2 linked regions of the Homo sapiens genome follow. The protein of the gene in region 1 interacts with the protein of each later gene in a pairwise test. Each region holds a gene or a part of one and is shown on either strand. Other genes may lie near its edges.

Region 1 (3,387 bases):
CCTGGGTCTGAGACCTCCAAGGCCACAAGGGTCCTGCGGGGCCAGTTTGGTTCATTTTTTCTTCCTTCCTACAGGAAGGAAGGTTCGTTTTTCTTCTGTCCTAAACGAAGGGTCATTTTTCCTCCTTCCTAAACTCTGGCTGTTTCTCACCCACCTTGGGAGGAAGATGAGATGGGATGAAGCTGAATCTTGGACGGGGGTCATATTCAGGCCACACAGGCCAACCCAGCCTCAGGGTTTCTTCACCAAATCATGGGTTGCCATTGCTCCGGCACCATGAAAGGCACAGAGTTGGCCCTGTGGTCCCAGGGAATAGATGCCGAGTTTCTCTAGGTTGAACAATCCTGTTAAAAGTGCCCTTGCTGGCTGGGTGTGGTGGCTCACACCCATAATCCCAGCACTTTGGGAGGCCAAGGCGGGTGGATCACAAGGTCAGGAGTTCAAGACCAGCCTGGCCAAGATGATGAAACCCCGTCTCTACTAAAAATACAAAAATTAGCCAAGCATGGTGGCGGGTGCCTGTAATCCCAGCTACTCAAGAGGCGGAGGCAGGAGAATCGCTTGAACCCGGGAGGCAGAGGTTACAGTGAGCTGAGATCATGCCATTGCACTCCAGCCTGGGTGACAGAGTGAGACTCCGTCTCAAAAAAAAAAAAAAAAGAAAAAAGAAAAAAGAAAAAAAAGTGCCCTTGCCCTAAAGCCCTGTTTGTGCTGATACCTTGGTCTCAATTGACATCTGGAGGTAGAAGAGGGGGCAAGAGGCTAGAATTGGTGCCCCAAAGAGTCCGGACACTGGAGTTGGAAAGCTTGGGGGAAGTTACATGGTGGCAGAGCAGGGGAATGGACAGGATGACCTCAAGGTGCTTGCTAGCCTCACGTGGGGCCAGCTGTTGGTGGGGGTGATGGGATCCTCGAAATCCTTCCTCCCCACCCCTACAACCGTCTTGCTCTGTCTACAGATGATTGTGCTCCAGTCCCTCCATAAGTACCAGCCCCGGCTGCATATCGTTGAGGTGAACGACGGAGAGCCAGAGGCAGCCTGCAACGCTTCCAACACGCATATCTTTACTTTCCAAGAAACCCAGTTCATTGCCGTGACTGCCTACCAGAATGCCGAGGTGAGGGCTGCCTGAGCCCCGGTGGGGAGGAGGGCAGAGTGGGGCCCACTGTCTTCCTTGGGAGGGATTTGGAAAGTTCCCGAGCCCCAGACTCAGGACTCAGGTGACTCTATTTCCCTTCTCTCTAGATTACTCAGCTGAAAATTGATAATAACCCCTTTGCCAAAGGATTCCGGGAGAACTTTGAGTCGTAAGTGCCACTGGGTTCAACTCAGCTTTGGTCCCTCCTGAGACACATCCTCTCCCTGCCCCTGAAAACAGGAGGGTGGGGGACAGATGCTACAGGTGGGCAGGCCAGGGAAGGAGGGTCGGAGAAGGAATGTGTGAAACAGGTAGGCTCACAGGTGACTGGTTCTGCTTGTGACCCGTTTTCTTGCCTTCTATTTTTTTCTAGCATGTACACATCTGTTGACACCAGCATCCCCTCCCCGCCTGGACCCAACTGTCAATTCCTTGGGGGAGATCACTACTCTCCTCTCCTACCCAACCAGTATCCTGTTCCCAGCCGCTTCTACCCCGACCTTCCTGGCCAGGCGAAGGATGTGGTTCCCCAGGCTTACTGGCTGGGGGCCCCCCGGGACCACAGCTATGAGGCTGAGTTTCGAGCAGTCAGCATGAAGCCTGCATTCTTGCCCTCTGCCCCTGGGCCCACCATGTCCTACTACCGAGGCCAGGAGGTCCTGGCACCTGGAGCTGGCTGGCCTGTGGCACCCCAGTACCCTCCCAAGATGGGCCCGGCCAGCTGGTTCCGCCCTATGCGGACTCTGCCCATGGAACCCGGCCCTGGAGGCTCAGAGGGACGGGGACCAGAGGACCAGGGTCCCCCCTTGGTGTGGACTGAGATTGCCCCCATCCGGCCGGAATCCAGTGATTCAGGACTGGGCGAAGGAGACTCTAAGAGGAGGCGCGTGTCCCCCTATCCTTCCAGTGGTGACAGCTCCTCCCCTGCTGGGGCCCCTTCTCCTTTTGATAAGGAAGCTGAAGGACAGTTTTATAACTATTTTCCCAACTGAGCAGATGACATGATGAAAGGAACAGAAACAGTGTTATTAGGTTGGAGGACACCGACTAATTTGGGAAACGGATGAAGGACTGAGAAGGCCCCCGCTCCCTCTGGCCCTTCTCTGTTTAGTAGTTGGTTGGGGAAGTGGGGCTCAAGAAGGATTTTGGGGTTCACCAGATGCTTCCTGGCCCACGATGAAACCTGAGAGGGGTGTCCCCTTGCCCCATCCTCTGCCCTAACTACAGTCGTTTACCTGGTGCTGCGTCTTGCTTTTGGTTTCCAGCTGGAGAAAAGAAGACAAGAAAGTCTTGGGCATGAAGGAGCTTTTTGCATCTAGTGGGTGGGAGGGGTCAGGTGTGGGACATGGGAGCAGGAGACTCCACTTTCTTCCTTTGTACAGTAACTTTCAACCTTTTCGTTGGCATGTGTGTTAATCCCTGATCCAAAAAGAACAAATACACGTATGTTATAACCATCAGCCCGCCAGGGTCAGGGAAAGGACTCACCTGACTTTGGACAGCTGGCCTGGGCTCCCCCTGCTCAAACACAGTGGGGATCAGAGAAAAGGGGCTGGAAAGGGGGGAATGGCCCACATCTCAAGAAGCAAGATATTGTTTGTGGTGGTTGTGTGTGGGTGTGTGTTTTTTCTTTTTCTTTCTTTTTATTTTTTTTGAATGGGGGAGGCTATTTATTGTACTGAGAGTGGTGTCTGGATATATTCCTTTTGTCTTCATCACTTTCTGAAAATAAACATAAAACTGTTGAATGTGCCTGCCTCAGTGCCAGCATGGGGGGACATGGATGGGGACTCAGTTGGGGTTGTACCCAAGCTGGTGTACCCAAGGTGTTCTGTCAGCTTTCATTTATGGGGAACCTGCTAAGACCCTGAAATGACTCCAGCTGAGTTACAGCAAGGCCACATGTCCTACCTTCAGCACTCAGGGGGTTGGTTGATGCTACCTCTTAAGGCATCTTGGGACGGACAGAGAAGAATCCCTTGCCCTGTGTGCACCCTGACATTGAAAGGAGGGGTGTGAGGGCAAGGCCAAGGGCTGGACTGGGAGCGGGGGTGCAGGGCGCTGTGAGGCGGTGGCACTTGATTTTTCTTTGCATTTCTAGCAGCCCTCCACCTTTATCTCTAGGGTTATTCAAGGATTAAAGAAATAAATATAAAATGAGCCATGTGAAATTACCATTTTTGTAGGTCGAAAAGCCAAATATTAGCAATTTTATGTGACTCAAGCTAATACATGTAAAGGGTTTAAG
Region 2 (3,952 bases), on another chromosome or scaffold:
GGGCTTTGACTAGGGAGTGGCCGCTGGGCCTCCCCTGATGCCACAGCATCCACCGCTCCTTTCCACTGTCTGGTTAGTCTCTTCTGGAGACCCATACCTGGCCCCACCACCCACCTTACAGTCCTCAAAATCATCCAAGGATAAGAACCCCAAACCTAGTCCCCCCCACCATATTCTTCCTGGACCCCTACACTAGGCTTCTTTTCAGCGCACTAGCTGAGGCTGAGCCACTAAGCCAAAGGGCCCTGACATAGAAGATACATGGCTCTCATTCCAATCCTTTTCTTTGGGGTTTGGGATTTGAAAATCCACAGTGGATGTAGCTTTCTTCACATTGATTGACAATAAAGGCAGGCATGAAATATTCACCCAGGGCCACTCTCTCATACTAAATATTTAACACAACATTAGAGAAGGTTTTTCCCAGACTTCGCCAGGCACCGGCTGGGCGGCTGGCGCACTGCTCACCACTCGTTTATGACTAATCTGACTCCCTAGCCAGGGGCAGCACAGCAAGCCAGACAAAGTTGGGACACTGGCTTGCAGCTGGGCTGCCTCACCTTTGGGAAACTTCAGATACTCTTCCGGGAGTCTCTCTAAGGACTCCAGAAAGGTAGTCTTGACACCCAGCTCTGGCCAGGAAAAGAGTGGACTTCTTCAAACTCTTGTGAACAGGCGGTGTCTCTGCGGGTTGGAAGGGTAAGAGTCCCTGAGATTTAAGGGAAAGGATTCACTTCTCTGGGGAAATCAGGCAGTGGGGAAAGAAGTCCTCACTCCCACCCTCCTGGTGCTGCTCACAGAGAGGAGGCAAGACCCCCATACATGAGAGCCCTCCTCCTTCCCCCAATCCTGGGGGAAAAAAGAGCAGCAGCTAGAAAAAAATACAATTACCCCTTCCCAGCCACCACCCTCGCCCATCCCACCGCCCACCCCACCCCAACCCTCTCTCTCCTCCTTTGCTCGTGCTGTGGTATGGAGAGAAGGGGAGTGACGAGAGAAAAACGAATACAAATCTGCAATTGATTTTCATAATGTTTCTGCGGTGTTTGCAAACCAATCGCCTGAACGTCCCCGATCTTACCTAAGAGAGAACCCCTCCTACGTCTGCGAAGTGCTCCGAACTGATATATGACAATATCTACTTTGGATCACGTGCTCAGAGAGAGAGAGACTAAGACGGATAACGCGTCATCTCGCCTTCCCAAATTTTCCCCCCTCGCTAGACCGGGTCCAAAACCTCCATCCGGAGCCGGCAGGAGAGGAGAACGATGTTTAACTCGGTCAACCTGGGCAACTTCTGCTCTCCGTCGCGCAAGGAGAGGGGCGCAGATTTCGGCGAGCGAGGGAGCTGCGCCTCCAACCTCTATCTGCCCAGTTGCACTTACTACATGCCCGAGTTCTCCACGGTCTCCTCCTTCCTGCCCCAGGCCCCCTCTCGTCAGATCTCCTATCCCTACTCGGCCCAAGTGCCCCCGGTCCGGGAGGTCTCCTACGGCCTGGAGCCATCCGGCAAGTGGCACCATCGGAACAGCTACTCCTCCTGCTATGCGGCGGCCGACGAGCTTATGCACCGGGAGTGCCTGCCTCCTTCCACCGTCACCGAGATCCTCATGAAAAACGAAGGCTCCTACGGCGGCCACCACCACCCCAGCGCCCCGCACGCAACCCCCGCCGGCTTCTACTCCTCAGTCAACAAGAACAGCGTCCTGCCTCAAGCCTTCGACCGTTTCTTCGACAACGCCTACTGCGGTGGCGGCGACCCGCCCGCCGAGCCCCCCTGCTCCGGCAAGGGCGAGGCCAAGGGGGAGCCCGAGGCACCCCCGGCCTCGGGACTGGCGTCCCGGGCTGAGGCGGGTGCCGAGGCGGAGGCTGAGGAGGAGAACACAAATCCCAGCTCGTCCGGTTCAGCCCACTCCGTGGCCAAGGAGCCGGCCAAAGGAGCCGCCCCCAGTAGGTAGCAGCGGCCGGGGAACGGGCGGGCAGCGAGGGAGGGAGCGAGAGAGGGAGGGCGAGAGAAGGGGGGAGGCAAGGGGAGCGGGGACGGCCTCGTGTTTTGGGTCAGTCCGATTTTATGTGGAGTTTTATAAGCATTCAAAGGATTTTATTATAACCTACAAAGCCCTCTCTCCCAACGACTCGACTTTTTACGATGGAGAAGGGGTGGGGAGGGAGGGAAAAGGGCTCTTTGGAAAAGCCGGGTGAACCCCCCTCCCCCGTTATCTCCCTCGGTCTGTGAAATTTTTAAAAGCGCAACCATTGCGGGCGATATTAACTTTGATCGTGAACTTAGAGGAGCATTTAAGGAAGTATGGGGAGCCGGGCTGCCGAGGAGTGGGGAGGAGGGGAGGGGTGGAGGGGGAGAAAGGGGAGGGCGAGGGAAAGACAGGGAGAGATCCAGAGAGGGGGAGAGGTGGGGGAGAGGAGCAATGGAGCAGAACCTGAGACCGGAGAGGCAAGCCAGGACCGCTATGATCCTTCTTAAAACTAGTTTTGAAAATGTTCAAACTATGTGTTCGCGGGTCCTCGAGCAGAAACCCAAGCAACTCTGGGGTCAGCGGCGACAGGGGAATGGGGCGAGGCGGCGCAGGACTCCACTGCGTTCCAGGCGGGGGTCTGGGCGTTTCTCCCGGGTCCGCGGCCTTAGTGCTTGCCTAGAACTGCGGTGTGGAAGGCGCTGCCCCGCGGGCTTCCCGGGGCGCCAGGGCCCCGGAAGCGGCTCTCTGGTGTCTCGGTGCCTGCTGGCCGGCTTCCTCCCCGCCTCCCGACTGCTCTCGCCAGATTTCACTGCTTCGCGCCTGTTCTCAGCTTTCCCCCCAGATTTCTGGGGGAGGGGTTGGGCTTTCCGAACCACTAGGAGGGCGGCCCAGGAAGGGCCCGAGGGCGGAGGGGGAGCAGACAGGGGGCCCGAGGGGACGCACGTGTACCTGGAGGGCTTTCCTTCTGTCCCAGACCCTGTCAGCCGCGGCTCTCGCCTGAGAACTGGGGACGGGGTGGCGCAGTGGCGGGGGGGTGGGGACCCGCTAGACCTGGCAGGGGGTCGAGGCTTGCCCGGGTGCTGCGGCTGCAGGAGAGCCAGCCGCCTGGCGGGAGGGCTGCCCGCGGTGGGCTAGGAGAAGGGCCGCTGAGCGCTCAGCGGGCTGGGGTCGCCCGGGTCTCACGTGTCTCTCTCCCCCCTCTCCTCGCACTTGCCCCCTCCCCTCCCTCCAGACGCCCCCCGCACCCGCAAGAAGCGCTGCCCTTATTCGAAATTCCAGATCCGGGAACTGGAGCGAGAGTTTTTCTTCAACGTGTATATCAACAAAGAGAAGCGGCTGCAGCTGTCCCGGATGCTGAACCTGACGGACCGACAAGTGAAAATTTGGTTTCAGAACAGAAGGATGAAAGAAAAGAAACTGAGCAGAGACCGGCTGCAGTATTTCTCGGGAAATCCTCTGCTGTAACCTGCAGACCGGGCCCTTTTGGGGGCGGGGGGAGGGGAAAATTATTTTATTTTATTTTTATTTTTTATTTTCTAACTCGTCTTCTTTCCGCCGGTGGAAAACTGGACTGTGGCCAGGGCTGGCCCCCACCGCTGTGGCCGGCACTCCATTCCGGAACCTCCTGGACCCTCTATCTGACTCTCGCTGTGGGACAGGGACCGGGCCTGGAAAGGGGGTGAAGGGAAGTGTCTGATGCACGGCGAGTGAACACCGTTGGCGCCGAGGCCAAGACTTTGATTTAAAAGAAAACACACCTCGGCGACAATGTCTTGCTGCTCGGATTAGGTGGGGGAGGGGCGACAGTAGTGAGCGCCTGAGCCGAACAATCCTCGAACTAAAAGCCTTCCCTTGCCCATGTGAAAAGATCCGCTAAGACAGCATGTCTGCCAGCGGAAACTTCTCGAGCTCCCCCCTCTACCCCGCCCCACCTTGCAGCTAAATGTGATCCTGCCTTGCTGTGAAATTTCTGTACC

What was found.
Region 2: the proteins of TBX21 (region 1) and HOXC11 interact in a two-hybrid assay, tested with the Homo sapiens proteins (one large-scale study listed by BioGRID and IntAct).

Annotation. Positions count from the first base shown.
Region 1 is NC_000017.11:47,743,236-47,746,622, forward strand, and holds the end of TBX21 (T-box transcription factor TBX21), read left to right. Parts: intron 1-959; coding exon 960-1,118; intron 1,119-1,246; coding exon 1,247-1,308; intron 1,309-1,512; coding exon 1,513-2,131; 3' UTR 2,132-2,887; downstream 2,888-3,387. UniProt on the Homo sapiens protein: Lineage-defining transcription factor which initiates Th1 lineage development from naive Th precursor cells both by activating Th1 genetic programs and by repressing the opposing Th2 and Th17 genetic programs.
Region 2 is NC_000012.12:53,971,974-53,975,925, forward strand, and holds the start of HOXC11 (homeobox protein Hox-C11), read left to right. Parts: upstream 1-1,152; 5' UTR 1,153-1,268; coding exon 1,269-1,950; intron 1,951-2,924; exon of another isoform or gene 2,925-2,981; intron 2,982-3,207; coding exon 3,208-3,440; 3' UTR 3,441-3,952. UniProt on the Homo sapiens protein: Sequence-specific transcription factor which is part of a developmental regulatory system that provides cells with specific positional identities on the anterior-posterior axis. Binds to a promoter element of the lactase-phlorizin hydrolase gene.